Linked DNA regions of Homo sapiens. The protein of the gene in region 1 interacts with the protein of each later gene in a pairwise test. Each region holds a gene or a part of one and is shown in the gene's direction. Other genes may lie near its edges. The genes, in order: GRIP1, GRIPAP1, WDR6 and DEPDC1B.

Region 1 (7,029 bases):
CTTTAGGTCAGATGTAATTTTAAAAGATGTATAAAACATGTATTTCTAGACAAGTCCTTGGATCACTCCACATAGACACTGATCCACAGTATTATAGTAGAATATATTTCAGGTAAACTTAGCACTTCTCTGACTTGGGAATTGAGTCATTTTCTTATTAATGTTTCAAGCCACTGTTTCAATCATTTTGCCTTATCAGGTACCTACCAATGTAGAACAAGAGCAAGAAAATAACCTTTACCCAAAAGGCCCATGCCTGCCATTATGAGAGGAACTTTGGTTCATGAAAACACCAAGCACCGTCAAAAGCATTCCGTTTCCCATCTAATATTGAAATCTAAAGAAGCAATGCCGTTCTTTTCTTCCTCCAGAATGAGAGTCTACCAATTACCCAACCTTAGAGCCAAATCCCAAAATAACATTTTGTGAGGTTTCCAGAGACATCTGACAAAAGGGTTTTCTGGAGTGGGTAAATCTAGGCTTCTTGGCACCTACCTTCACAGCTGTTTACCTGGGACAGCCCTGGTTTCTCAGCTAGGGGCTACCATACCTCAGGGGAAGGGAGTATGTTCTCAGAGAAGGGGAGATATTTTCATGGCTCCCACAGACTTTGTTCTTTTTCTCTTGTCATGATTGTGTGATTACTTTTCCTTGAGACAGTTTGGCCTCATATGCAGAGAATCACTTTCTCTGGTGATATGGGATGTGACTCTGCTGCTTGCTCAGGTGCTGCCATTTTGAGCTCCGAGATCTGAACTTTCGTGCTCCACTGGCAATGGCATTTTTCTTTCACAAGCTTCACTCTGCCTACCAATGCCAACATCAGCCAATTAATATTTACTGACATTCCACAGGGAGCACGGCTCTGGGCACCTTTCATTGTTTTGCTGCCACCCACCCTCTCTCTCTGTCTTTTCTCTACTGGCTCAAAGCTCATGTCGGAAACCTTTGCCTTCACTTTAGTATAGACTTCAACATTTTTCATCATAGCTGGCCTACGTGTCATTTTATTTTCTACTTATCTTCACTTTCTCTCTCTTCCCAAATACACATATGGCCTAAAATAGAATTAACTCTCCCTGTCCCTTTCCCACTAACAAACTATAAGCAGCCCCGTTGACCTTCATCCCAATGGGGTGTCTAAGTGAGACATCTGTGGCTGGCAGGGAACTGCTCCCTGCTGTGCATTCTACTTTCTTTCTCTCTCCCTCTCTTCTTCCTGATTTCTCCTCCCAACCTCAGTATCTTTTCTCCTTTTCTGCTGTCTGGGCATGTATGGGTATTGCTCTCTCCACTGGCACTGAGCAAGATTAAAAGGCTGGGTTGTGATCACACTCACTCTCATTTTTTCAGTCATTGTTCCTTACACTTACCCCAATCATGGAATCATTATGCTTGAAAGGGAAGGTCAGACATTCGTCTAGGACTTGTTTCCAGAGAGAACTGAAACTCAACCATCTCAGACAACCAGTAATCTTATTCTCAATTCTCTCTGACAAGAACAATCTCACAGTTTGTCTGATAAACTTTTAATGGATTACTCAGGTGACGTCTAAATCCCTTTAAACTCTGACACTCATCCTGTGTTTAAAAGTTCTTCTATTTAGAAACTCATTTCCTAAGTGTAATCTTAATTAAAGAAACACATTTAAATGTTTTGTCTTAATGGAAGAGGAAAAATATTTCCCATCTTTTCTCATCTGCAGAATCTTTTAATCCAAGGAATTCTGAATCCATCACAGAGTTCAGTATCAGTGTTCCAAACCTGATGGCTCCTTTGCTGGTGGCCTTGGATTTTCTGTTCTGGTCACTTTGCTCTTTCCCATCTGTCTGTGTCTAGCCTTGTGGTTCCTTCAGCAGTCTTCTCTAATGATTCCTCATCCACTCTGTGATATGATTCAGAACTGATCATCATCTGGGTTGAGAATGCTCTCTCTCTCTGTGCTGGACCTCATTTCTCCTGTCTCCCCATCCTCATCCATTCTGCTAACCCTCGCTGGCCTTCTCTGTCAGATCCTGCCATCTGGAACAACTTAACTGTATCCTCCACCTCGTTAACTTTCCACCCCTTTCCAAATCTCACCTGCAACCATGTCCTTTCTGCTTTGCCTCCACCCCTTCATTTCATGCCATCAAAGCTAGTGCATTTAACGTATTTATCTTTCTAGCCTATCAACTTTTTAAAATAATATGCACTTAATAGATATTTCACAAAGTAAGTCTGTCTTGTTTTATTGGAGTTTCATCTATTGCTAGGGCATGGGGCATATTTCTCTTGCAAATAGAGAGACCCCACTTGAACAGGAGAATGCTGCAGCTGGGTCCCAGGCAGGTCTTGTTCTCGCGCAAGTGCTGCTCGTGGTCCAGATTGTGATGGATTTCTTGCTGTGCTTCTAGCCCATGCTTTGAGGGAGTTTACATTGAACAGTGGCTTGGACCGCTTTACTCTCCACTGGACTGAAGCTTTTCGTTTATATAACTAGTTAGAATTATCATAATGGCGCATTTATTTCTCCCCTGTCTTCCAAATGGGAATTGGATGCTAGAAATACTTTACCTCGTTCCAGGAGGTACCCATCCTCCAGAGGAAATTTTGGCTATGCCTTGTATGACCCCATATAAACAAGAAGGAGTCTACACCCTTCTTATATGATTGTAGCAGGTTAGGAAGAAATATCTGGTTCATTACTGGGAAAAGGAGGGCCAATGTAGGATAGGCATTCTAATCGATTAACTTATATACTTTTGGGAAATGTTTAGGAGGAAGAATGGAAATAAGGATAGCTAACATTTATTGAGCACTTACTTTCTGCCAGGTACTATTCTAAACATTTTACATGTACTAACTCATTTAAATCTTGCAATATTATCGTCATTATCCCCACCATACAGATGAAAAAGAAGAGGTTCAGAGAAGTTAAGAATCATTCCTAAGATCACAAGTGGAGGACAGGAGGAACCCCAGTGTTTCATTTTTGCCATTTTTTTTCTCTTCTAGAAACGGATAGAAACCATAGACCTGCCTATCTAGAATAATAAAGAGAAATTAATCAAGACAACACCACACTAATCTCTCAGCATTCCTTATGGTAGGGGAAATAGAATAGACTTAGAAATTAGAAGATATGTCAACCTTTCCTAGCTTTCCTATTTTTACTTGTGTGGCAAAAACAAACAAACAAAAAAACTGAATTTCCCCCACTAAATTTCAGTTTCTTAATCTGTAAATTAAAAATTACTTGTGAAAACTGTTTTATACTCATGTTAGCTATAACAAAATGATTTAATTTTCTACTACAGTTGATTTATTTGAAATTCTTATATTAGTAAATTCACTTTATTCTGGCGGAAAATATATAATTTGATAACTTCCCACTATTTGAGAGGAGGCAAAATACATAGTTTCTAGGGATAGGCAAGCCGTCAGTGTTTGAAACTCATCTTTTTCTCTCTTTTAGTTTCTTACCACTTTTTTGCCCATATACATGAGAATTATGTTAAATTTAAAATTAGTAACTGCTGCTTTATTAAATATACAGAAGAAAATCTTATTTGCAGATTTTTAAAATAATTATTTGTTTCAGTATCGCATATATCCAAAAAAAAAATGCACCCAGATATTTATTACATGTAGCTCCTTAAAGGATGTTACTGCACCCTTCAAACCAAGGAAACTTTGACCTTGCCATTACAAAAAGCAATAAAAGCAGTGGTCTTGGATGTCTCAGTCAATGATGACCACCTAAATTCAGGCAAAGCTCGGGGTATTAGAAAGTGAGAAAGAGCTTCTTACTAATAATTCCAACTACATTATTAAATAGCTGAATATATGAAGAATACAATAAGTTACATTTGTACTAAGGAAATTTCTATTCATTTTCAAAACAGATGAATTAGGAGAAAAGGTAAAACTAAATATCACTAAAGATATGTTGTCATCATAATAATGGAAACCAATGGAGGAAAACAAATTGATTTACAAATTATTATGCTTTTTAATAAGTTGAAATTATATGTATAATACATGTTTTGTCTTACATCTTCTTCCTAATATTCTGCCCATTTGTGCACATTAGCACACACTTGTCATAGGAAACTGTTACTGTCTCTGTAGTATTTCCTTATGTGGATAATATATCTTTAGTTTGTTTCCCAGTTTTCAGTCTAATACATGATACTGAATTGTCTTTAAAGAATTTATTTTGTGCTTTAAATTGTTGCCTTCATGTATCTTCACTTTCAAGTCTTCTGATACATATTGTCTGAGAAATGTGTTTAGGATACACGTCCCACACATTTTCCCCAAGGCTTTCTTAAGCTAATAGAGGTGGCAGAGAGAAAAACAGTGGGAGAAATAGCGTTTGGATACCGTAATATCTAAAAACCAAAGCAAAGATGAGAGAAGGAGAGGCGAGAAGCAGCCCTTCTGTTTTGTAAGTGGGTCATTGCTGACCTTTGAGAGAACAGTTTTCACAGGGTATTGATGTCCAAACCAGATTATAAGGATTCTCTGCATTAAAGGCAACAAGGGCAGACCACTCTTTTAAGAAGTCTGAAGGTGAAAGTTAGGCTGTAGATGGGCAGCAGCCTGTGGGGGTGGAGGGCGGGGTCATGGGGGATAAGGAAGGCTATTATAGGATGGGAGAAATCTGAGCATTTTTTAAAAGGATAGAACCAGTAGGGAGGTAAAATTTCAAGATGCAAACTAGAAGAGGGATGAACTCTAGAACCAGGCAAGACAGTGTGAGTGTGAGACCACGAGACAGATGGCAGCCAGCTAGAGTGAGCAAGAGGGACACTCTTGTCACAGAGACAGGAAAGCATAGGAAGAAAGACTTTGAGGTGGACATTAAGGAAATTAATCAAACTTGACTTTCTTAGTAAATCAGAAGATGAGTCTAAAATCTCCTATTTTTATGAGCACCCAATTCAGGGGTTTCTAAATTTTTCTCTCCATTGGAATTACCTTGTAACCTTAAGAAAATAATGTTGCCTGGATCCAACCCCAGAGATTGTGATTTAATTGCCTGGAAGTGTGGCCTGTTCTTTGGCATTTTAACACATTCCCCAGGTGACTTTACTGTGTTAGCTGAGTTTGGGAGCCATGGACCTAACGTACTGGCAGCTTCATAGAGATGCTACTAGATATGTTTCAGCCAGAGACAAGCCCAGGAATTTTACTCAGCTGCTAGAAGGGAGAAGCTGAGCAGATATAAGGGCTATGAAACTGCTATAGCCTTCCTGTGACTTTGAGGGCAGAGCCTGTCTGAAAATGGCAGTGGATCCAAAAGAAAGAGACACCATATCTGACTGTCATCACTTCAGCCCCTGCTCAAGAACTACCTTAAGGGAGCTCTGAGCTCTCCCTTAGACTTCTTCAGTTAAGTTAGCCATTAAATGTCTTTAACACCTAAGCCCATTAGAGCCAGGTCTTTCTGTTATTTGCAATCAAAAGAGGCCTGATACAGGTTATAACGCATTTGTGTGTATACATTTTGGTGAGAGTTTTGAAGACATAGTTTAAAAATGACAGTTGACTCAACCATTTGCTGAGTCCACTCCTGAGTTGCTCTCATTCCACAGAACTGTGTGAACACCCCTGCAAATCTGAGCCTGCAGTCCTGTATGAAGTTATGAGCGCCACTGCTAACGTAGGATTTCCAGTGGATCATTTTGTTAAGTCTTCAAGTCTGCCCTCCTTGGCAGTCCACATCAGCATAGACTGGAAGGAATGTTCCATGGGGATGGAAATGAATATTGTAATTTTCATGTGATTTTTTGTCCTTACTATTTAGGGACCTAAGGGCTAACTGATCTCTCCCTTTCTTCTCCCCTTATGCGGAAGGTTATTATATGGAGAAAATAGTTGAAAGGCAGGGTTATAAAGTTTTCTGCTTTGGTTGTATGCGGTGCAATGTTCTGAGCATCTCAGCTCTTCTCATTGCTCCCTCTTCTCTTCTGTTACTTGTCTTCTTTCAATGCTAATGGACATAGCTACTCATGCAAAGGAGTTCACCCTCATTTGTATGGTGCAGAAAGTCTGTTGCCCTAGCCCACAATGAAGAGTAGACTTCATTGGTTAAAGTCATCTTCTATGGAGCCAATTGTTAAATGTTAAAGAATTTTTTGAACTAGCTTGTAAACACAATCATTTAAAATTATATAAATTTGCAATTAAATGATATTAAAAACGGAGGTAATGAATACTAACAATTCATCATTTTCTAATCATTACTACATTTTATGTTCTGTGCTCTTGAAGTCTACTCTATCTATGTGGGAGAGCTACTCTATAATGGTGTGCCACACATCTCTTAGCAACTCCACATTCAATGACATCAAGTTGGTAGACTGAAATTGGCCATAGTGGGAGTATTTACACCAGAGACATTGATGGATGCTATAAATCAAGGCATGCCCCGACAAAGCCACTTGTTAAACATTTACCAGCACACCACTGAATAGGTACTCCTGCTCTGTGTATTCATAAACCTGTATAGATGGCTTTCATTATGCTTTCTACATTTGATGATAATTCTTTGTTTATCTGTATACAACCATCAGACTATGAATTCCTTGAAAATTAGTATCCATGCTTTACTTACCATTATGTCACTGGCAAGTACAAAGTATTTGGTACAAAGAAAATGCCCAATAAGTATCTGTCGAATGGATAATGTTAATATTTATTTATTTATTTATTTATTTATTGAGACAGAGTCTCACTCTGTCACCCAGGCTGCAGTGCAGTGGCACGATCTCAGCTCACTGCAGCCTCCGCCTCCTGGGTTCAAGTGATTCTCTTGCCTCAGCCTCCCGAGTAGCTGGGATTACAGGCACCCATCACCACACCTGGCTAATTTGTTGTATTTTGGCCCGGCTGGTCTCAAACTCCTGACCCCAAGTGATCTGCCCACCTTGGCCTCCCAAAGTGCTGGGATTACAGGTGTGAGCCACCATGCCTGGCCAAATGATGTCAATTTTTAAAGATCTCCGGGCTTAACCAATCCCACACATTTGTTTTGGGCT
Region 2 (7,029 bases), on another chromosome or scaffold:
TGGGAGGCCAAGGTGGGCAGATCGCCTGAGGTCAGGAGTTCAAGACCAGCCTGGCCAACATGGCAAAACCCCATTTCTATTAAAAATACAATAATTAGCCAGGTTTGATGGCAAATGCCTGTAATTCCAGCTACTTGGGAGGCTGAGGCAGGAGAATCACTTGAACCTGGGAGGCAGAGGTTGCAGTGAGCCGAGATCACACCACTGTACTCCAGCCTGGGTGACAGAGAAAGACTCAGTCTCAAGAAAATAAACAAATAAATAAATAATAAAATAAAATTAACTGGGCATGGTGTGCACTTGTAGTCCCAGCTACTTGGGAGGATCGCTTGAGCCCAGGAGTTTGAGGTTGCAGTGAGCTATGATTGCACCACTGCACACCAGCCTGGGCAACAGAGCAAGACTGTCTAGGGAAAAAGATTTTTTTGAGACGGAGTCTCACTCTGTCACCCAGGCTGGAGTGCAATGGCTCGATCGCGGCTCACTGCAACCTCTGCCTCCTGGGTTCAAGCGATTCTCCTGCCTCAGCCCCACGAGTAGCTGGGATTACAAGCGCGTGCGCCACCACGCCCAGCTAATTTTTGTATTTTTAGTAGAGACGGGGTTTCACCATATTGGTCAGGCTGGTCTTGAACTCCTGACCTCATGATCCACCTGCCTTGGCCTCCCAAAGTGCTGGGATACAGGCGTGAGCCACCGTGCCCAGCCACGGAAAAAGATTTTTGGGGGAGGCTGAGGTGGGAGGATTGCTTGAGCTCAGGAGTTCAAGACCAGTCTGGGCAATGTAGCGAGACCTTGTCTCTACAAAAAAATCAAAAAATTAGCCCGGCATGATGGCACACACCTCTGATCCCAGCTACTTGGGAGAGTGAGGTGGGAGAATCACTTGAGCCCAGGAGGTCAAGGTTGCAGTGAACTGTGATCATTCCAGTGCACTCCAGCCTGGGTGACAGAGCAAGTCCCTGTCTCAAAAAAAAAAAGAAAAAAATGTGAGAGGCATGGATAGAGCTGAACCTTCGTCTTTTAGGCATGTGGTCATTTGGCACAGGGACTCTGCCACCTGAGGGGTTGAAGGCCAGTTCTCCCTCTATTCGAGGCATGGCAAGGGACTTCAGAGACCACCTCATCCATCATATATCCCTGTTCTACTCACCAGCCCTGCAGGAACGCTATGGGAAAGAAGCCGGGAAGTTCTCAGCTGTCAGTGAGGGCCAGGGGGATCCCCCAGGGGGCCTGGCCCCCACCGTCCTGGCCCCCATGCCGTTGGCAGAGGTGGAGCTGAAATGGGAAATGGAGAAAGAGGAGAAGAGATTGCTCTGGGAACAGCTGCAAGGCTTAGAGGTGAATCTGAGTCTGTTGGAGCTGGAATGCCAGAAGGCAGGGCAGATGTTCTACCTCTGTCTATAGTCCCACGGAGATGGCTGTGACATCACCATCTTGTGGGCTGATGGGGTGAGGGAGGCAGGAGGGCAGGGGAAGGCTTCTCCTTGTCCTTGCTAACAACAACCCTCCCATCCCTCATCCTTCCCTGCAGAGCTCAAAGCAGGCCGAAACATCCAGGCTGCAGGAGGAACTTGCTAAGGTGCGGCTGCTTGGCTCTTTCCCATTCTGCTCCCAATCTGCTGGATTCTTTCCCATTCCATTCCCAATCCTAGGGCAGAAGGGGCATTGTACCCCATCAAAGCCTAGGTTTCATCATCTGTGAAATGGAGAGACTCACACCTATGTCTCAGAGTTACTTTCAGTATGGAATGAGTTAATGTGGTCCCACTATATCTTGTGCATGATAAGTTTCATCCCATCCATCTCTCAGCTTTGCCCATTCACTCATTCATTCATTCATGCAAGCATTTACAGACTCCTGGCTCTTATCTTAGGACCTGGAGACCCAGGGGTGCGGCACCCAGTCATGATATCCTGCTTTCCAGGCCTCCCAGCCTAGCCAATCTATAACATGGCCATTGGCCACTATGTTGGGAGCATAAATACCGGGCTTTGGAACCTGAAGGATCTGGGTGGAGATAATATTGTTGTTGCTGACCCGCTGAGCAACCAAATTACTTAACCTTTCCAAGACTCTGTTTCCCCATTTGTAAAACTGGTACTACTCACTTGTCAGGGCTATTTTGAGGATTCCACAAGACAACATAAGTAAATCCTGGCTTCCAAAAATGACTTAATAAGAAGTGTCTATATTTATTAATTTTAGGTTTGTCTTTATATTATTCTCAATGTTATCACTTGTCTGTACCTCTCTCCCCAGCTCTCCGAGAAACTGAAAAAGAAACAAGAAAGGTAAATTTCTTTTTCCCAAGGGTACTGGGGGCCGAGGGGGGAATTAACTTACGGAACTGACCCATCTACATCTGTCCTTCTGTGCCCAGTTTTTGCCGTCTGCAGACAGAAAAGGAGACTCTGTTTAATGACAGCAGGTAACTGCCAGATTTGCGGGTATTGGTGGACAATTGGGACAGTGCCCAGTGAAGATTACAGGGGCAGAGCTAGGAGACTGGGCCTCAAGCCATGTCCAACACACCCCCTCCCCATCACTCCTAGGAACAAGATTGAGGAATTACAACAACGGAAGGAAGCTGATCACAAAGCCCAGTTGGCTCGAACCCAGAAGCTGCAGCAGGAACTTGAGGCTGCCAATCAGGTGATGGGGACTGGGTTCTGAGATCCCTGGGGTAGGGGCCAGGACTGGGAGCCTGGAGAGGTCTGAGGTCCATGGAGGCTGGCTGGGGAGTCTGAGATTTCCTGTGTTGGAAATGGGTTCTGGGGCCCCCCAGGAGCTAGGAAAATGGGAATTGGAGAGCCCTAGGAATTGTTATAGGAGTCTTCATGAGTGTAAGATCTCAGGGGGCTAAGGACTTAGGGGGCTGTGTGCTATAAGTTTGTGTAAATCTGAAACTCCTGGAGGTTTGAGACCACAGTCTGGATGAATCTGTGGTCACTAGGGCCTAGGACCAGGAACTGGGGTAAGTCTGAACTCCCTGGGTGCTGGGTGACTTTGAAATCTTTAGGGGCTGGGATGTCAGTAAATTTGGGACTCCCAAGGGCTGAGGACATGGCTGGGTAGATATACAACTTTCAAGGGTGAGATAGTTGGGGCTGAAGGCTGAGTGCATTTGAGATCCTCAGGATCTGGGCGCTGGCTTGGGCCTAAGACACCTAGGAAGTGGGATCATATGGGCTAGGTAGTCCTGAGATCCTTGAGGGCTGTGAACAAAAAGCTGGTCAGTCTGAGACCTCCAGGGGCTGGAGCAGAAGTTTAGGTGGGTCTGAGGCTCCTGAGGACTGGGGGCTGGATGGTTCTGAAGCCTCTGGGTTTCCTTCTAGAAAAGGTGAGTCTGAGGTCCCTTGGAATGGAGGATATGGTGGCTTGTGGTTCTGAAGTCCCTAGAAACTGGGAACATGGGGTCTGAGACGGGAGTCTGGGTAAAGCTGAGACCCCCAGGAACTGGTGGTTAACTGGGTCTGAAGATTCCAAGAGACTGGGGAGCAGAGTGACAGGTGAAGGGGTCAGTCTGAGAGTTCACCAGGACCTGGAAACTAGGAGGTTGTGAGTTTGAGACCTCTAGGATCTGGGACTATGAGTTTGGGTGGATCTCACCTGGGAAGTAGGGACGTGGGAGATGAGTGTGTCTGAAACCCCTGGTGGTTGGGATTGGGAGGCTGGGTGAAACTGTCATCCTTGGGTGCTGACTACATCTGAGATCCATGGGGCTGACTGTGTCTGAGAATCCTGGAGCTCCCAAGCTAGAATCTGGGTGAGCATGAGACTTCTTATGGATGGGAGCTGAGTGAGTTTGAACCGCGTAGCAGCTAGGGCCAGGAGTCTAGTCGTGCCTGAGATCTTGTACGCTGGGATAGAGGGGTTGACTGTGTCTGAGGCCCCTGAGGGTAGTGACCTGGCGTCTGGGTGAACCTGAGATTGCTGTTGGCTGGATAGTCTGAGACCCACAGGTGCTGAGAACATGCTGCTGGGTGGTCAAACAGAGAGTCTGTACGGTTATATGCACCCCAGGAGAGGCTGAGGTGTAAAATGGGCTCCCCTGGTCTCCACAGAGCTTGGCAGAGCTGAGAGATCAGCGGCAGGGGGAGCGCCTGGAACATGCAGCAGCTTTGCGGGCCCTACAAGATCAGGTATATTGTACTGCGTGGGCTCAGGGAGCTGGGGTTCAGGATGGGGGCAGCCTGAGTGGGTACTACATAGTCAGGCAAGGTCCCAGGGATCCTGCTTCCCCCAGGCCTTCGTGTGTGTGTGTGTGTGTGTGTGTGTGTGTGTGTGTGTGTGTGTGTGTGTGTGTGTCCTTTCTTTCTTGGTCGTGGGTAGGTCCTGTCCCCCTGTTCTGGACCCACTCTCACCTGCTGTGGACGTGGGGCCAGGTATCCATCCAGAGTGCAGATGCACAGGAACAAGTGGAAGGGCTTTTGGCTGAGAACAATGCCTTGAGGACTAGCCTGGCTGCCCTGGAGCAGGTAAAGAACACCTGGGGGCCCTTGCTGATCCCTCTCCAGTTCCCCCATCTCCATCTGCTTCTGGTCCACATCAGGGTAGGGTGGTCTGGACCCCATGCTGTTCTCCTGTCTTTGTTTCTGTTGCTCCTTTCTGTTGGCGTCCAGCCCTCTTCTCTCTGGCCATCCATCCCTACTTTTTTTTTTTTTTAACTTTTAAAAATTTTATTGGGGAGGCTGAGGCAGGAGAATTGCTTGAACCAGGACCCAGGAGGCAGAGGTTTCAGTGAGCCGAGATCGCACCACTGTACTCCAGCCTGGGCGACAGAGCAATACTCTGTCTCAAAAAAAAAAAAAAAAAAAAAAGGGCGTGGTGGCTCATGCCTGTAATCCTAGCACTTTGGGAGGCCAAAGATGTGTGGATGGCCTGAGCTCAGTTCAAGACCAGCCTGGGCAACACGGTGAAACCCCATCTCTACTAAAATACAAAAAATTAGCTGGGTGTGGCGGTGTGTGCCTGTAATCCCAGCTACTCGGGAGGCTGAGACAGGAGAATCTCTTGAACCCAGGAGGCGGAGGTTGCAGTAAGCCGAGATCGTGCCATTGCACTCCAGCCTGGGCAACAGAGCGAGACTCCGTCTAAAAAAAAAAAAAAAAAAAAAGCCGGGCATGGTGGCTCAATTCTGTAATCCTAGCACTTTGGGAGGCCGAGGAGGGCGGATCACCTGAGGTCAGGAGTTCGAGACCAGCCTGACCAACATAGAGAAACCCCGTCTCTACTAAAAATACAAAATTAGCTGGGTGTGGTGGTGGGCACCTGTAATCCAAGCTACTCGGGAGGCTGAGGTGGGAGAATTGCTTGAGCCCAGGAGGTGGAGTGTGCGGTGAGCCGAGATCGTGCCATTGCACTCAAGCCTGGGCAACAAGAGTGAAACTCTGTCTCAAAAAAACAAAAAACAAAACGAAAAAAAACTTATTGGCCGGGCATGATGGCTCACACCTGTAATCCCAGCACTTTGGGAGGCAGAGGTGGGCGGATCACCTGACATCAGGAGTTTGAGACCAGCCTAGCCAACATGGCAAAACCTTGTCTCTACTAAAAATACAAAAATTAGGCCAGGCGCAGTGGCTCACGCCTATAATCCCAGCACTTTGGAAGGCTGAGACGGGCGGATCACCTGGGGTTCGGAGTTCGAGACCAGCCTGGCCAATATGGTGAAACCCCGTCTCTACTAAAAATACAAAAAAAAATAGCTGGGCATGGTGGCGCACACCTGTAATCCCAGCTACTCGGGAGGCTGAGGCAGGAGAATTGCTTGAACCTGGGAGGTGGAGGTTATAGTGAGCCGAGATTGTGCCACTGCACCCCAGCCTGGGTGACAGAGTGAGACTCCATCTCAAAAAAGAGAAAACAAAATTATTTTGTAGAGACAGGGTCTCACTATGTTACCCAGACTGGCTTAAACTTCTGGCCTCAAGCTATCTTCCCACCTCGGCCTTCCAAAGTGCTGGGATTATAGGTGTGAGCCACTGTGCTTGGCCTATCTCTGCTTTTTTTTTTTTTTGTAGACGGAGTTTCGGTCTTGTTGTCCAGGCTGGAGTGCTATGGCACGATCTCGGCTCACTGCAACCTCCGCCTCCCAGGTTCAAGCGATTCTCCTGCCTCAGCCCTCCCAAATAGCTGGGACTACAGCCGTGTGCCACCATGCCCAGCTAATTTTTGTATTTTTAGTAGAGACGGGGTTTCACCATCTTGGCCAGGCTGGTCTCGAACTCCTGACCTCATGATCCACCCGCCTCGGCCTCCCAGAGTGCTGGGATTACAGGCATGAGCCACCGCGCCCGGCTTCTGCTTTTCTTTGTTTCTAGTTTCTCTCTAGTAAAGTGCATGAAATGTACTAATCTTAAGTGTACACTCAGTGAATCCTCTCTTCGTCTCTCTCTTTTTTTTCTCTCTCTCTCCCCGCCACCATAGCCACCACCCAGATCAAAGTATAAAGCACTTTTAGTACCCCAGAAGGTCCCCTTTACCCCTTCAAAGTCAGTACTCCCCCAGAAGTAACCATTATTCTGATCTCTAGCAACATAAGATTCATTTCGCTTGTTCTTTAACTTCATATAAATGGAATCAGCTGCTCTTTGTCTCTGACTTCTTTCTGGCAGCACTATGTAAGTTTATCCACGTGGCAGCACAGATCTGTTCTCTTACTGTTGTGTGGTATTCCATTGTATGAACATACCACATTTACCCATTCTCTTCATTGTTTTTCTGTTTGAAATTTCCTCTCTCTTCCTGGTTCTCTTCCCACCTCCCTCCCTGTTTCCCTGGAACTAGGGGGCTCATACCCTGTCCCTGGCCCCTGGGGTCCCTTTCACTCTACTTCTCATCACCACTACTTTCTCCAGATCCAAACAGCAAAGACCCAAGAACTGAATATGCTCCGGGAACAGACCACTGGGCTGGCAGCTGAGTTGCAGCAGCAGCAGGCTGAGTACGAGGACCTTATGGGACAGAAAGATGACCTCAACTCCCAGCTCCAGGTAACACCTTTGGCTCTGGCCTGTCTCTTC
Region 3 (6,090 bases), on another chromosome or scaffold:
GCAGAGTGAGACTTTGTCTCAAAAAAAAAAAAGAGTGACTGATGAGGGGGCCGGGCACAATGGCTCACGCCTGTAATCCCGGCACTTTGGGAGGCCAAGGTGGGTGGATCACCGCAGGTCAGGAGTTCGAGACCAGCGTGGCCAACATGGTGAAACCCTGTCTCTACTAAAAATATAAAAACTGGTCGGGCTTGGTGGCTCACGCCTATAATCCCAGCACTTTGGGAGGCTGAGGCGGGCAGATCACGAGGTCAGGAGATCGAGATCATCCTGGCTAACACGGTGAAACCCTGTCTCTATTAAAAATACAAAAAATTAGCCGGGCATGGGGGCAGGCCCCTGTAGTCCCAGCTACTCGGGAGGCTGAGGCAGGAGAATGGCCTGAACCCGGGAGGTGGAACTTGCAGTGAGCTGAGATCGTGCCACTGCACTCCAGCCTGGGCTACAGAGCAAGACTCCGTCTCAAAAAAAAAAAAAAAAAACTAGCCAGGTGTGGTGGTGGGCGCCTGTAATTCCAGCTACTTGGGAGGCTGAGGCAGGAGAGTTGCTTGAACCCAGGAGATGGAGGTTGCAGTGAGCTGCACGGTGCCACTGCACTCCAGCCTCAGCGACAGAATGAGACTCTGTCTCAAAAAAAAAAAGAATGACTGATGAGGGAAGCACAAAGTCAGCACTGAAAGTCCAGCTGAAGCTGAGACCAAGGATTTTCTTTTTTCTTTTTTTTTTTTTGAGTCTTTCGCCCAGGCTGGAGTGAAGTGGTATGATCTTGGCTCACTGCAACCTCCACCCGCTGGGTTCAAGCGATTCTCCTGCCTCAGCCTCCTGAGTAGCTGGGATTACAGGCACGTGCCACCACACCTGGCTAATTTTTTAGTAGAGATGGGGTTTTCACCTTGTTGGCCAGGCTAGTCCTGAACCCCTGACCTCAGGTGATTCATCCGCCTGGGCTTCCCAAAGTGCTAGGATTACAGGCGTGAGCCACCGTGCCTGGCCGAGACCAAGGATTTTCTTTTTTTTTTTTTTCTTTTGAGACAGAGTCTGGCTTTGGCTTTCCAAAGTGCCCAGATTACAGGCGTGAGCCACCGCACCCGGCCGAGACCAAGGATTTTCTAAGATTCAAGCTGCAGGATTGTGTGTCCTGATGCATTCATAGGCTACATGCCGAGAAGTTTCCCTGATCCCCATCTCTTCCCTGTGGGTCATCAGAGTTAGGTACCTAGCTCTGACATGGCTCTTTGCCTCTATCTAGGTGAGGGTCCCGATGTCCTGGTGTACAGCTTGGACTTTGGTGGGCATCTGCGGATGATAAAGCGAGTGCAGAACCTGCTTGGCCACTATCTTATCCATGGCTTCCGGGTACGGCCAGAGCCTAATGGAGACCTTGACTTGGAGGCCATGGTGGCTGTGTTTGGAAGCAAGGGACTCCGAGTTGTGAAAATTAGCTGGGGACAGGGCCACTTCTGGGAGCTTTGGCGCTCTGGCCTGTGGAACATGTCTGACTGGATTTGGGATGCACGCTGGCTTGAGGGAAATATAGCCTTGGCCCTGGGCCACAACTCAGTGGTGCTATATGACCCTGTAGTAGGGTGCATCCTGCAAGAGGTGCCCTGCACAGACAGGTGCACCCTCTCTTCAGCCTGCCTGATTGGAGACGCCTGGAAGGAGCTGACCATAGTGGCAGGTGCTGTTTCCAACCAGCTCTTGGTCTGGTACCCAGCAACTGCCTTAGCAGACAACAAACCTGTAGCACCTGACCGACGAATCAGTGGGCATGTGGGCATCATCTTCAGCATGTCATACCTGGAAAGCAAGGGATTGCTGGCTACAGCTTCAGAAGACCGAAGCGTTCGTATCTGGAAGGTGGGCGACCTGCGAGTGCCTGGGGGTCGGGTGCAGAATATTGGGCACTGCTTTGGGCACAGCGCCCGTGTGTGGCAGGTCAAGCTTCTAGAGAATTACCTTATCAGTGCAGGAGAGGATTGTGTCTGCTTGGTGTGGAGCCATGAAGGTGAGATCCTCCAGGCCTTTCGGGGACACCAGGGACGTGGGATCCGGGCCATAGCTGCCCATGAGAGGCAGGCCTGGGTGATCACTGGGGGTGATGACTCAGGCATTCGGCTGTGGCACTTGGTAGGGCGTGGGTACCGGGGATTGGGGGTCTCGGCTCTCTGCTTCAAGTCCCGTAGTAGGCCAGGTACACTCAAGGCTGTGACTCTGGCTGGCTCTTGGCGACTGCTGGCAGTGACTGATACAGGGGCCCTGTATCTCTATGACGTCGAGGTCAAGTGCTGGGAGCAGCTGCTAGAGGATAAACATTTCCAGTCCTACTGCCTGCTGGAGGCAGCTCCTGGTCCCGAGGGCTTCGGATTGTGTGCTATGGCCAATGGGGAAGGTCGTGTCAAGGTTGTCCCCATCAACACTCCAACTGCTGCTGTGGACCAGACCCTGTTTCCTGGGAAGGTGCACAGCTTGAGCTGGGCCCTGCGTGGTTATGAGGAGCTCCTGTTGCTGGCATCGGGCCCTGGCGGGGTAGTAGCTTGCCTAGAGATCTCAGCCGCACCCTCTGGCAAGGCCATCTTTGTCAAGGAACGTTGTCGGTACCTGCTGCCCCCAAGCAAGCAGAGATGGCACACATGCAGTGCCTTCCTACCCCCAGGTGACTTCCTGGTGTGTGGTGACCGCCGGGGCTCTGTGCTGCTATTCCCCTCCAGACCAGGTCTGCTCAAGGACCCTGGGGTGGGAGGCAAGGCTCGGGCTGGTGCTGGGGCACCTGTAGTGGGTAGTGGTAGTAGTGGGGGTGGGAATGCTTTCACTGGGTTGGGCCCAGTGTCTACCCTGCCCTCTCTGCACGGGAAGCAGGGTGTGACCTCAGTCACATGCCATGGTGGCTATGTGTATACCACAGGGCGTGATGGAGCCTACTACCAGCTGTTTGTACGAGACGGCCAGCTCCAGCCAGTCCTAAGGCAGAAGTCCTGTCGAGGCATGAACTGGCTAGCTGGGCTCCGTATAGTGCCCGATGGGAGCATGGTTATCCTGGGTTTCCATGCCAATGAGTTTGTGGTGTGGAACCCTCGGTCACACGAGAAGCTGCACATCGTCAACTGTGGTGGAGGGCACCGTTCGTGGGCATTCTCTGATACTGAGGCGGCCATGGCCTTTGCTTACCTCAAGGATGGGGATGTCATGCTGTACAGGGCTCTGGGTGGCTGCACCCGGCCACACGTGATTCTCCGGGAGGGTCTGCATGGCCGTGAGATCACTTGTGTAAAGCGTGTGGGCACCATTACCCTGGGGCCTGAATATGGAGTGCCCAGCTTCATGCAGCCTGATGACCTGGAGCCTGGCAGTGAGGGGCCCGACTTGACTGACATTGTGATCACATGTAGTGAGGACACTACTGTCTGTGTCCTAGCACTCCCTACAACCACAGGCTCAGCCCACGCACTCACAGCTGTTTGTAACCATATCTCCTCGGTACGTGCTGTGGCTGTGTGGGGCATTGGCACCCCAGGTGGCCCTCAGGATCCTCAGCCAGGCCTGACTGCCCATGTGGTGTCTGCGGGGGGGCGGGCTGAGATGCACTGCTTCAGCATCATGGTTACTCCGGACCCCAGCACCCCAAGCCGCCTCGCCTGCCATGTCATGCACCTTTCGTCCCACCGGCTAGATGAGTATTGGGACCGGCAACGCAATCGGCATCGGATGGTTAAGGTAGACCCAGAGACCAGGTAATATATGCTCCTGGGCAGGGTGTGGTATGGGTCATGCAGATGCTCCCAGGCTTGCAGGCTCCACCTGACAGCTGCATGTTGTCTCTGCAGGTACATGTCCCTTGCTGTGTGTGAACTTGACCAGCCCGGCCTTGGCCCCCTTGTGGCTGCAGCCTGTAGTGATGGGGCCGTAAGGTGAGAGCATAGGGCCCAGTGGGACAGGAGACAAAGGAAGTAAGGTTGTCTAGGATGCGTTCTGAGCTGGGCCACCCCCCGCCCCCCAGGCTCTTTCTTTTGCAGGATTCTGGGCGGATTCTGCAGCTCCTTGCTGAAACCTTCCACCATAAGCGATGTGTCCTCAAGGTCCACTCCTTTACACACGAGGCACCCAACCAGAGGCGGTGAGAGGGGCTGGATGATGGTCCTGCATGGGCTGGGTTGGGGGGTTCCTGTTGAGCTTCATCTCTGTTATTGACCAGGCTGTCTTTTCCTGGCTCTCAGGAGGCTCCTCCTGTGCAGCGCAGCTACTGATGGCAGCCTGGCTTTCTGGGATCTCACCACCATGCTAGACCATGACTCCACTGTCCTGGAGCCTCCAGTGGATCCTGGGCTTCCCTACCGTGAGTAGCTAATGTGCAACCATGGCTACCCCTCCTCACCTGTCACATAGCCCTCACACATGTGGCAGGCGGGGCCCTGACAACTACCCTCTTCCTCTTCCTTCAGGGCTTGGCACCCCCTCCCTGACTCTCCAGGCCCACAGCTGTGGTATCAACAGCCTGCACACCTTGCCCACCCGTGAGGGCCACCATCTCGTGGCCAGTGGCAGTGAAGATGGATCCCTCCATGTCTTCGTGCTTGCTGTGGAGATGCTACAGCTAGAAGAGGCTGTGGGAGAGGCTGGGCTGGTACCCCAGCTGCGTGTGCTAGAGGAATACTCTGTCCCCTGTGCACATGCTGCCCATGTGACAGGCCTCAAGATCCTAAGCCCAAGCATCATGGTCTCAGCCTCCATTGATCAACGGCTGACCTTCTGGCGTCTGGGGCATGGTGAACCCACCTTCATGAATAGCACTGTGTTCCATGTGCCTGATGTGGCTGACATGGACTGCTGGCCTGTGAGCCCTGAGTTTGGCCACCGTTGTGCCCTTGGGGGTCAGGGGCTTGAGGTTTACAACTGGTATGACTGAGGTATCCTGCGGTGGCTGGCGTGCTGGGCATGGGGCCTGCTCACAGACAGCATGGAGCAGGGATGGGCTGTCTGTGCCCATGCTCAGCATGCCTTGAGGGGAGGAGGTGGTGGCCGTGGGTTCCTGATGTCGGTGCAGGAGCTGAAGGTGAGTGGAGTGCTGCCAAGAATATGCCCGACTCCCCATGACAAGACAGAACTTTGTAACAAACAGTACCAATTTATTTTGGCCGTGGGTTTTTGCTTTTTTTCCAGTTGATGACTTTGTGAACATTCCCAGGTATTGGAGCCTCTGTGGCCTTAAATGTGGCTCAGTGGAGGGAGACCCAGCATAGCCAGGCCAGTATGGAGCACCTCACGCACAGCTCTCAGAAGCTGCAGGCGGACGAACATCTGACCAAAGAGGTGTGGTCGAGGCTCCTGAAAGAGAAAGGGCCTGCTGGTCTCATCCTCTGCTTCCTTTGCCTTTACCCTATACCTCTCTGCACGTCCCACCCCATTTTGCTGTGTGCTCACCCCCAGGATGTGTACCCGGTTGTAGTAGGAGCTGAAATCCATGCTGAGCTGTACCAGGAACTTGCATATCTAGAGACAGAGACTGAGTCACTGGCCCATCTCTTTGCTCTTGTGCCCCAGGCCAGAATAAAGAATAGAGTGTAGAGTGTCCTGGTTGTCTATGCCTCACCATCTCTGTGCGTACAGCAATGTGGAGCCCCGGGGCTGTGCAGTCCAGCACTGCTGTCCGGCTCAGCAGATCCGGAAAGGGGAGGATACTGTTGAAGAGCAACAACCACTCACCCTGTTGGGGAGAAAGGTGCTGGGAGGGGAAGTCCAGGCCTCCTTGTGCCAGCTACCAGGAGGGACACTCACCTCATCATGTAGCAGTGAGAAGTCCAGACTGCTCACAGGAGGAAAAGTGGGGTACAGACCTTGTTCCATACTACACTTGTAACTCTCAAAGAGTGTGGCAAGACGGGCACAATTATACATGACAAAGGTGCCACTCTTTGTGCCCTTCGTGGAGATACTGCTGTCAGCCAGAGCCAGGAAGAGCTGGGGAATAGAAGCACAGCTGCAGAGAGAGAAGGCAGCCACCACACCCTGTGCCCCAACACTGGCCCTGTCAGGCTCCCAGGCTCACCTGACTCTGTGGGGCTGTGCTCAGCATCTCAAACTTGATGGTGGCCA
Region 4 (7,029 bases), on another chromosome or scaffold:
TTATGATAGTGTTAGCCTGGCTGCTCCTGGTTCGGGAAAGAGTGCTATGAAAATTGAGATATATCTGTCTAGTGTATGGGAGGAGAAAATGGCTGTATTTGGTTCTATATATTTGTCATGCCTGGTTGATGGTTTGTATTTTCTATAGTGATTTGTGAGTGACAATGGATCTATATTCAATTGACCCAGTATAGTTGAATATGTGAAAATATTTTATGTAATTTTACTAATATATATTTTGTTAAAATACAACCATATAGAATCTACTAGGCTATAGGTGTTGAAAGATAACATTTTTTTTTTTCTAAATCAGGTTTGTTACAGAAGGAGAAAGTGGCAGTTGAAGCATTTCAGATTTGCTGCCTTCTCCTACCTCCTGAAAATAGGAGAAAGTTACAGCTATTGATGAGGATGATGGCAAGGATTTGCTTAAACAAAGAGATGCCACCCCTGTGTGATGGCTTTGGTACCCGAACACTGGTAGGTTGATTTTTAACATCAGGTATGACTTTTTGGAATGAAAGTCGACTGAGTAAGGTGTATTAGTTTGGGTGATCAGAGGGAAGTACAAAGCAGACTTGCTTAAAAGAGCCACAGTCAGTGTCCACCCAGACTTGTGTCGTGCTTTTGTTCTAAGTGTCTTAAAGAACATAATGAGAAATGGAGACTTGAGTAGGGGCAGACTCTGTAGAGAGATCTGCTACATCCTGTTCTCCCACTTAAAATTATTTTAAATTTATTCTTAATTGACAACTAATAATTGCATATGTGATGTTTTAATTCATGTATACATTATAGAGTCAATCAAGCTAATTAACAGATTCATTACCATACCAACTTATCATTTTTTTGTAATGAGATCATTAAAAATCTATTCTTTTCTCAATTTTGAAATATACAATATATTATTATAATTGTCGTCACCGTGCTGTGCACTAGAGCATTAAGACTTGATCCTCCTGTCTCACTGGATCTTTGTACCCTTTGACCAACATCTATTTCCATGTCCCTGTATCCCCCAGCCTGTGGTACCTACCATCTAATCTCTGCTTCTATTGGCATATGTTTTTAAAGAGAGTTTATTTTAGAATTTACTTACTAGCAAAATCTCTTGATTTTCCTCAAAAAATGTCTTTGAGCAAAACTGGTGCTTCAGTGGAATGTATGTGCTTTCCATATCCTGTTAAAACACCGTGTACTCCCTGGGGATTCACTGGCCCAGTTTTAGAAGTAATAGAGTGAGATCAGAGGAGCACTTAGTGCCCAGTAGGATTCTTGATCTCTATATTTTTTTGGAGTGAGTGGATGGTTAGAGAGGCTAATAGACCTTTTTGAAAAGCTGAAGAAAACTTTATATCTATTCTGCATATAAAATACACATGCAAAACTTTGCATGCAGTTTCAAGGCGATCACAGAGTCCCTGGGGTCCATGGTCTCCAGGCAAAAAATTCTCTGCCTGTGTGTCTCTCTGTACATGTAAATGTAAGTGAAGATCATTTGCAGTGTGTTAATGAAGTGTTACTAAGCAGAATTACATGATTTTTTGCTTAAAGATTTTGAAGGAAGATTGTCAGCGATAAAAGTAGTAGGAAAAAACAAAACAAAACAAAAGCCAGTCCAAAGAACAGTATTAAGAATGGAGTAGTTAGGCTGGGCGTGGTGGCTCACTCCTGTAATCCCAGCACTTTGGGAGGCCGAGGCAGGTGGATCACCTGAGGTCAGGAGTTCTAGACCAGCCTGACCAACATGGTGAAACCCCGTCTCTATTAAAATTACAAAAATTAGCTGGGCATGGTGGCAGGCGCCTGTAATCCCAGCTACTCGGGAGGCTGGGGCAGGAGAATTGCTTGAACCTGGGAGGCGGAGGTTACAGTGAGCCAAGATCACACCATTGCACTCCAGCATAGGTTACAGAGCGAGACTCCGTAAAAAAAAAAAAAAAAAAAAAAAGAATAGTTAATTTCAATTCTATGGAAATTATTACATTGATGCTATAATATATTTTGCATTTCTGCTTGCCTCAAAGAGAGTCTCATCACTTAATGTACTTCTTGAAAAGTCCCATGGCTTTGTTCAAAGATGATTGTCAAATATACATCGAAAATCCTAGAGAAAATAAGCTAACTAGGAAAAGATGTAATGGTTGAGGCATGTGGACTGTGTTAGCGGTTTAAAACAAATCAATAATGAAATTAGGATAAATAATAATTGACTAAATGGCTATAAAGTGCTTTGAACTTAGTAGTGCTACATGATTCAAGTCATGGTGATAATGATTTTCAAAATTTGTTTTCATATATTTATATGTGTGTATGTGTGTGTATATATATATATATATATATGTATATTTAAAATCGTGTAAAAGGAGGTTTAAAAATTGCTCAGATAAGCATCTCTCTGCAGTCTCTTAACAGGAAGATGCACATTTTGTTTGTTCTGGTTGTTGAGACCGTCAACCCATCTGAGATGGCTGGGTACTCTTGGTAGAATATGCACCCTGTGCCTTAGACCATTTCTCATATTTGCCTTTTGCAAATTAGATTGCACTCAGTTCAGAAAAATACTCATCTGCGTTTACCCCCCACCCCGCTCTTTTTTTAGATGGTTCAGACATTTTCCCGTTGCATCTTGTGTTCCAAGGATGAAGTGGACTTGGATGAGTTATTAGCTGCTAGATTGGTAACGTTTCTGATGGACAATTACCAGGAAATTCTGAAAGTCCCTTTGGCCTTGCAGACCTCTATAGAGGAGCGTGTGGCTCATCTACGAAGAGTCCAGGTAAAGGAGAGGATATTATCAGTTCTATGAAATTGGCAATATAAAGTCACGTAAGCTTGCTAGGCTTCTTGGGGCATTTTATTATGAGGATTAAGTGAATTAATGTTTATAAAGTACTTACAACAGGTCTTGGCACATAGTAATCCCCTGCATGTGTTTGTATTATCATTGAAAAGTTTACAGAATGCACATTTGGTTTTGTGTATCAATCCATGTGGCATATTTTTTATTGCTAATTCCTTGAATGAGTTTGTTTAGAATCTACATACACCTACTGATGGAAATGATTTTATGTGCAGTAAGTGTCTTGATTCATAATTGCCCTGTGACCTAGTTTAATATTCCCACTTTTTGCATGAAAAAGCTAAGGCACAAAGAACTTAAATAACTTCGCTTAAGGCCACAGAGCCAGAATTCTGACTGTTGCAGTCAGCCTCTGTAATCAGTGCTCTAAACTATCATTCCATATTGCCTGTCTAAAAATCATAGTACAGTAGAAGAACACTGGCATGAGAGCCATGAATCCCTGGCCAAATTCCTAGCTGTATCCTTTCTGTCGTGTGACTCTGGGCAAGTCCCTTAACCGCTTTGGATTTTACTTTCTTTCCTCAGGCGTTAAAATGGGCTATTCTTTCTTTATAAAGTTGTGAAGATTAGAACACTGTACTTTACAATTCCTAGGATGAATTTCTGACATATGTCAGGTATTCTTTGAAAGGTAGCTGCTGCTGTTGTCATGGTGGTTATATAAAAACAATGCAAAAGAAATATAATATATTATTATCGTGTGGACCCCAAAGTGGGGTTTGTATGTCAGCCTGTGGGAGCAGAAACCTGGTAAAGGCAGGCAGAAGGTCCACTTGACTCCTTCTGACTGATTGGACCTCTTCTCATTTGAGATCTTTTTGAGGCACCACAATCAAGGACCAGTGAACTGCCTCCTTCTGAGGTATTACAAAAATAATTAATTGTCCAGCTGTTTCTAGAAGGCAATTTTAAAATTAAAATTTTTTCTATTTTTTTGCAATTATCAACCTAACACATTGAAGAAACTTGGGAAATATAGAAAAAACACACCAAAAAGTATCAGAGTTACACTAAAATGTTCATAGTCAGTAATATAGTCTTTCAGATTTTTTTTTCTGTGTCTGTCTGCTGTCTATGTCCATGCCTACCTTACTTTCTTCCCTCTCTCTTCCCTCCCCACCCTCCCTTCCTTCCTTCCCTCCTTCCCACCTTCCCTGCTTCCTTCTTGCCTGCCTCCCTTCCTGCCTGCCTCCCTTCCTGCCACTTACATTCTGTTAACAATGAGAAAAAAATTCCCCCATCATTAAATATTGTTGATTGGCATGAGAATGGCCAAGAGCACAGACTCAGGAGCCTTTGAATTCATGACATGCCTTTTGTTAGCTGTGTCACCTTAGGCAAATTATATAACATGTCTGTGCTTCAACATCTGTCCCAACATTTCTTTTTCTCATCTGTAAAATGGGAATAATAGTAGTTAATATTTACCTCATAGAGTTTTTCTGGGGAATTAAAACATGTGATTAAAATACATGTGGGCTTAATACATGTGAAATGCTCACAATAATGTTTATCACATTGTAAACCTACAATTAGTAGCTGCCTTTGTTGTTGGTATCATCATTATTGTTATATTATTCCATAATAATATTATTGGCAACATAGTATTCCATAATATGGATATACCATAATTTATTTAAATGATACTTTTTGGTTGGTATTTAGATTGTTTTCATGCTTTCCCCCATTTTGGAAGCAATATAGCAGTAAATATTTTTAAAGGTAGATTTTTTTTGGCTAATCTGTGATTATTTTTTAAGAATAAACTCCTAGGGGCAGCATTGCTTGGCCAAAGGCCATGAACATATTTTAAGTATCTATAGCATATTGCCAAATTTAGAATGATCATTTCAATTTACATTTCTGTCAGTGGTATAAGAGAGTGTTCATTTCTTTGCCCCTTTGCCTACTTTGGATATTATCATTAACACTTGTATATATCTTTGCCACTTGCATGGGTGAAAAGTGTAATTTTAACTGCTGTTTTAGTTTAATTTTTTCCTCTGATATTTTTATGAGCCAACCCTAAAGAAAATAAAAATGAACAGAAATACTTCACCAAGTTTCTGCAAGGAAATGTTATAGCAGTGTATTAGTCTGCTCTCATGCTGCTAATAAAGACATACCCAAGACTGGGTAATTTGTAAAGGAAAGAGGTTTCATTGACTCAGAGTTCAGCATGGCTGGGGAGGCCCCAGGAAACTTACAATCATGGCAGAAGGGGAAGCAAACACATCCTTCATGAGGCAGCAGGAGAGAGAAGCACCGAGCAAAAGGGAGAAAAGCCCCTCATAAAACCATCAGATCTCATGAGAACTCACTCACTATCATAAGAACAGCATGGGGGGAACCACCCTGTGATTCAGTTACCTCCCATCTCCCACAGCAAGGGGATTATGGGAACTACATTTCAAGATGAGATTTGGGTGAGGACACAGCCAAACAATATCAAGCAATAACTGTGTTGCCCTGTATACTTGCTAGGTTTGTGTATTCACATGCATAGCACAGGCATATATTGTAGTAACTTAGCCTTGTGAGCCCTTTGCTATTACTTGAAGTTCAGAAGGCTGAGCTATGGTGATTAATTTAACTGCAGGTAAACATGATCTTGTTAAGAGACACTGCAGTGTGCTCTGAATAAAATCAGTAGTGATTCATTTGTCCAGTTACCTTTTCTCTCTTGCAAGTACATATTAGAATTGCCAAGCACCTGTTCCATTCAGCCCTCAGAACCTATAGATCTTTGTTCTTTTGATTAGGCTCCTAAGCCTCTACACTGTATCACATTTAGGGGAGTGCTTCTCTGAAAATGCAGTGTTGCTTGGATTATTCCAGTGATTGTTTTAGGACAGTTTCAGGGCTGACCCTGGGATACATTATTAGGTAGGCAATGTTTTTGACACAAGCCTTCTATGATCCTCATCTGCAACCTTCTATTTCAAAGGACTCCAGGCTCTGAAATTAAATATTTTTAATGTATGTTCATTTATTCACAGGCCTTGGTTTCCTTTTTCCTCTTATTTCTCTCTTCTCCCTTATCCCTTCTGCAATGTCTGCACCTTTGTTGTTTTACTTGATTCTCATGGGTAAGATGTTAGGAAATGATTGTAGTACCCCTCTCTTCCTAAAAGCTTAGCTAAATGCATGCCACTACCATCCCCAAGGCATTGAGAATCACACTCTTCAGATGTGGGAATGCGCCTGGATAGTTCCAGTGGATATCCAACATTATCAATGTTTTGAATCATTTTAGTCAATGTGTTTAATTTATGCTTGAATTTCAGATCTTGTTAAAAGAGGGAATGCCGAGACCAGCTCGGTCGTGGAGACCCTAACCCAGTGGCCCTAGAGGAATTAAAGACACACACACACACACACACAAATATAGAATGTGGAGTGGGAAATCAGGGGTCTTACAGCCTTCAGAGCTGAGAGCTTTGAACAGAGATTTACCCACATATTTATTGACAGCAAGCCAGTCATAAGATTTACTAAAAGTATTCCTTATGGGAAATAAAGGGGTGGGTGAAATAAAGGGAAGAGCTCTGGCTAGTTATCTGCAGCATGAACATGTCTTTAAGGCACAGATCGCTCATGCTATTGTTTGTGGTTTAAGAATGCCTTAAGCGGTTTTCCGCCCTGGGTGGGCCAGGTGTTCCTTGCCCTCATTCCTGTAAACGGACAACCTTCCAGCATGGGCATCAAGGCCATCACGAGCATGTCACAGTGCTGCAGAGATTTTGTTTATGGCCAGTTTTGGGGCCTGTTCCCAACGAGGGCACAAGCTTTTTTTGTTATTGAAATGGCTCTTGGGTTTACAAAGGTAAAAATCCAATTTAAAACCGTGGCTTTAAATAATAATATTTTGAAGTTATGGAAATACTTTTACTTTTCAATATAGAGTTTCCCCCAATCAAATTTTGAGGACTAACATGGCATTGCTACGGTACAAGGAGATATCCTGTATTTGATCTAAACTAATTCTTATAATTTATTTGAAAATATGCTATATTCTTTCACTACTAATCCTTTTGCCTCAGATAAAATACCCAGGAGCTGATATGGATATCACTTTATCTGCTCCATCATTTTGCCGTCAAATTAGTCCAGAGGAATTTGAATATCAAAGATCATATGGCTCTCAGGAACCTCTGGCAGCC

What was found.
Region 2: the proteins of GRIP1 (region 1) and GRIPAP1 interact in a two-hybrid assay, tested with the Homo sapiens proteins (one study listed by BioGRID).
Region 3: the proteins of GRIP1 (region 1) and WDR6 interact in binary tests that used the Homo sapiens proteins (3 or more experiments, as listed by UniProt).
Region 4: the proteins of GRIP1 (region 1) and DEPDC1B interact in a two-hybrid assay, tested with the Homo sapiens proteins (one study listed by BioGRID).

Annotation. Positions count from the first base shown.
Region 1 is NC_000012.12:66,669,070-66,676,098, reverse strand, and holds part of GRIP1 (glutamate receptor-interacting protein 1), read left to right. Parts: intron 1-7,029. UniProt on the Homo sapiens protein: May play a role as a localized scaffold for the assembly of a multiprotein signaling complex and as mediator of the trafficking of its binding partners at specific subcellular location in neurons.
Region 2 is NC_000023.11:48,985,238-48,992,266, reverse strand, and holds part of GRIPAP1 (GRIP1-associated protein 1), read left to right. Parts: intron 1-1,156; coding exon 1,157-1,341; intron 1,342-1,534; coding exon 1,535-1,582; intron 1,583-2,263; coding exon 2,264-2,295; intron 2,296-2,384; coding exon 2,385-2,432; intron 2,433-2,556; coding exon 2,557-2,656; intron 2,657-4,068; coding exon 4,069-4,146; intron 4,147-4,389; coding exon 4,390-4,482; intron 4,483-6,864; coding exon 6,865-6,999; intron 7,000-7,029. UniProt on the Homo sapiens protein: Regulates the endosomal recycling back to the neuronal plasma membrane, possibly by connecting early and late recycling endosomal domains and promoting segregation of recycling endosomes from early endosomal membranes.
Region 3 is NC_000003.12:49,010,386-49,016,475, forward strand, and holds the end of WDR6 (tRNA (34-2'-O)-methyltransferase regulator WDR6), read left to right. Parts: intron 1-1,035; exon of another isoform or gene 1,036-1,227; coding exon of another isoform or gene 1,228-1,249; coding exon 1,250-3,731; intron 3,732-3,824; coding exon 3,825-3,908; intron 3,909-3,997; coding exon 3,998-4,114; intron 4,115-4,192; coding exon of another isoform or gene 4,193-4,214; coding exon 4,215-4,333; intron 4,334-4,439; coding exon 4,440-4,903; 3' UTR 4,904-5,202; downstream 5,203-6,090. Other genes in the region: DALRD3 (DALR anticodon-binding domain-containing protein 3), read right to left, coding at 5,203-5,487, 5,588-5,701, 5,773-5,955, 6,044-6,090. UniProt on the Homo sapiens protein: Together with methyltransferase FTSJ1, methylates the 2'-O-ribose of nucleotides at position 34 of the tRNA anticodon loop of substrate tRNAs. Required for the correct positioning of the substrate tRNA for methylation.
Region 4 is NC_000005.10:60,599,141-60,606,169, reverse strand, and holds part of DEPDC1B (DEP domain-containing protein 1B), read left to right. Parts: intron 1-313; coding exon 314-480; intron 481-2,602; coding exon 2,603-2,779; intron 2,780-6,909; coding exon 6,910-7,029.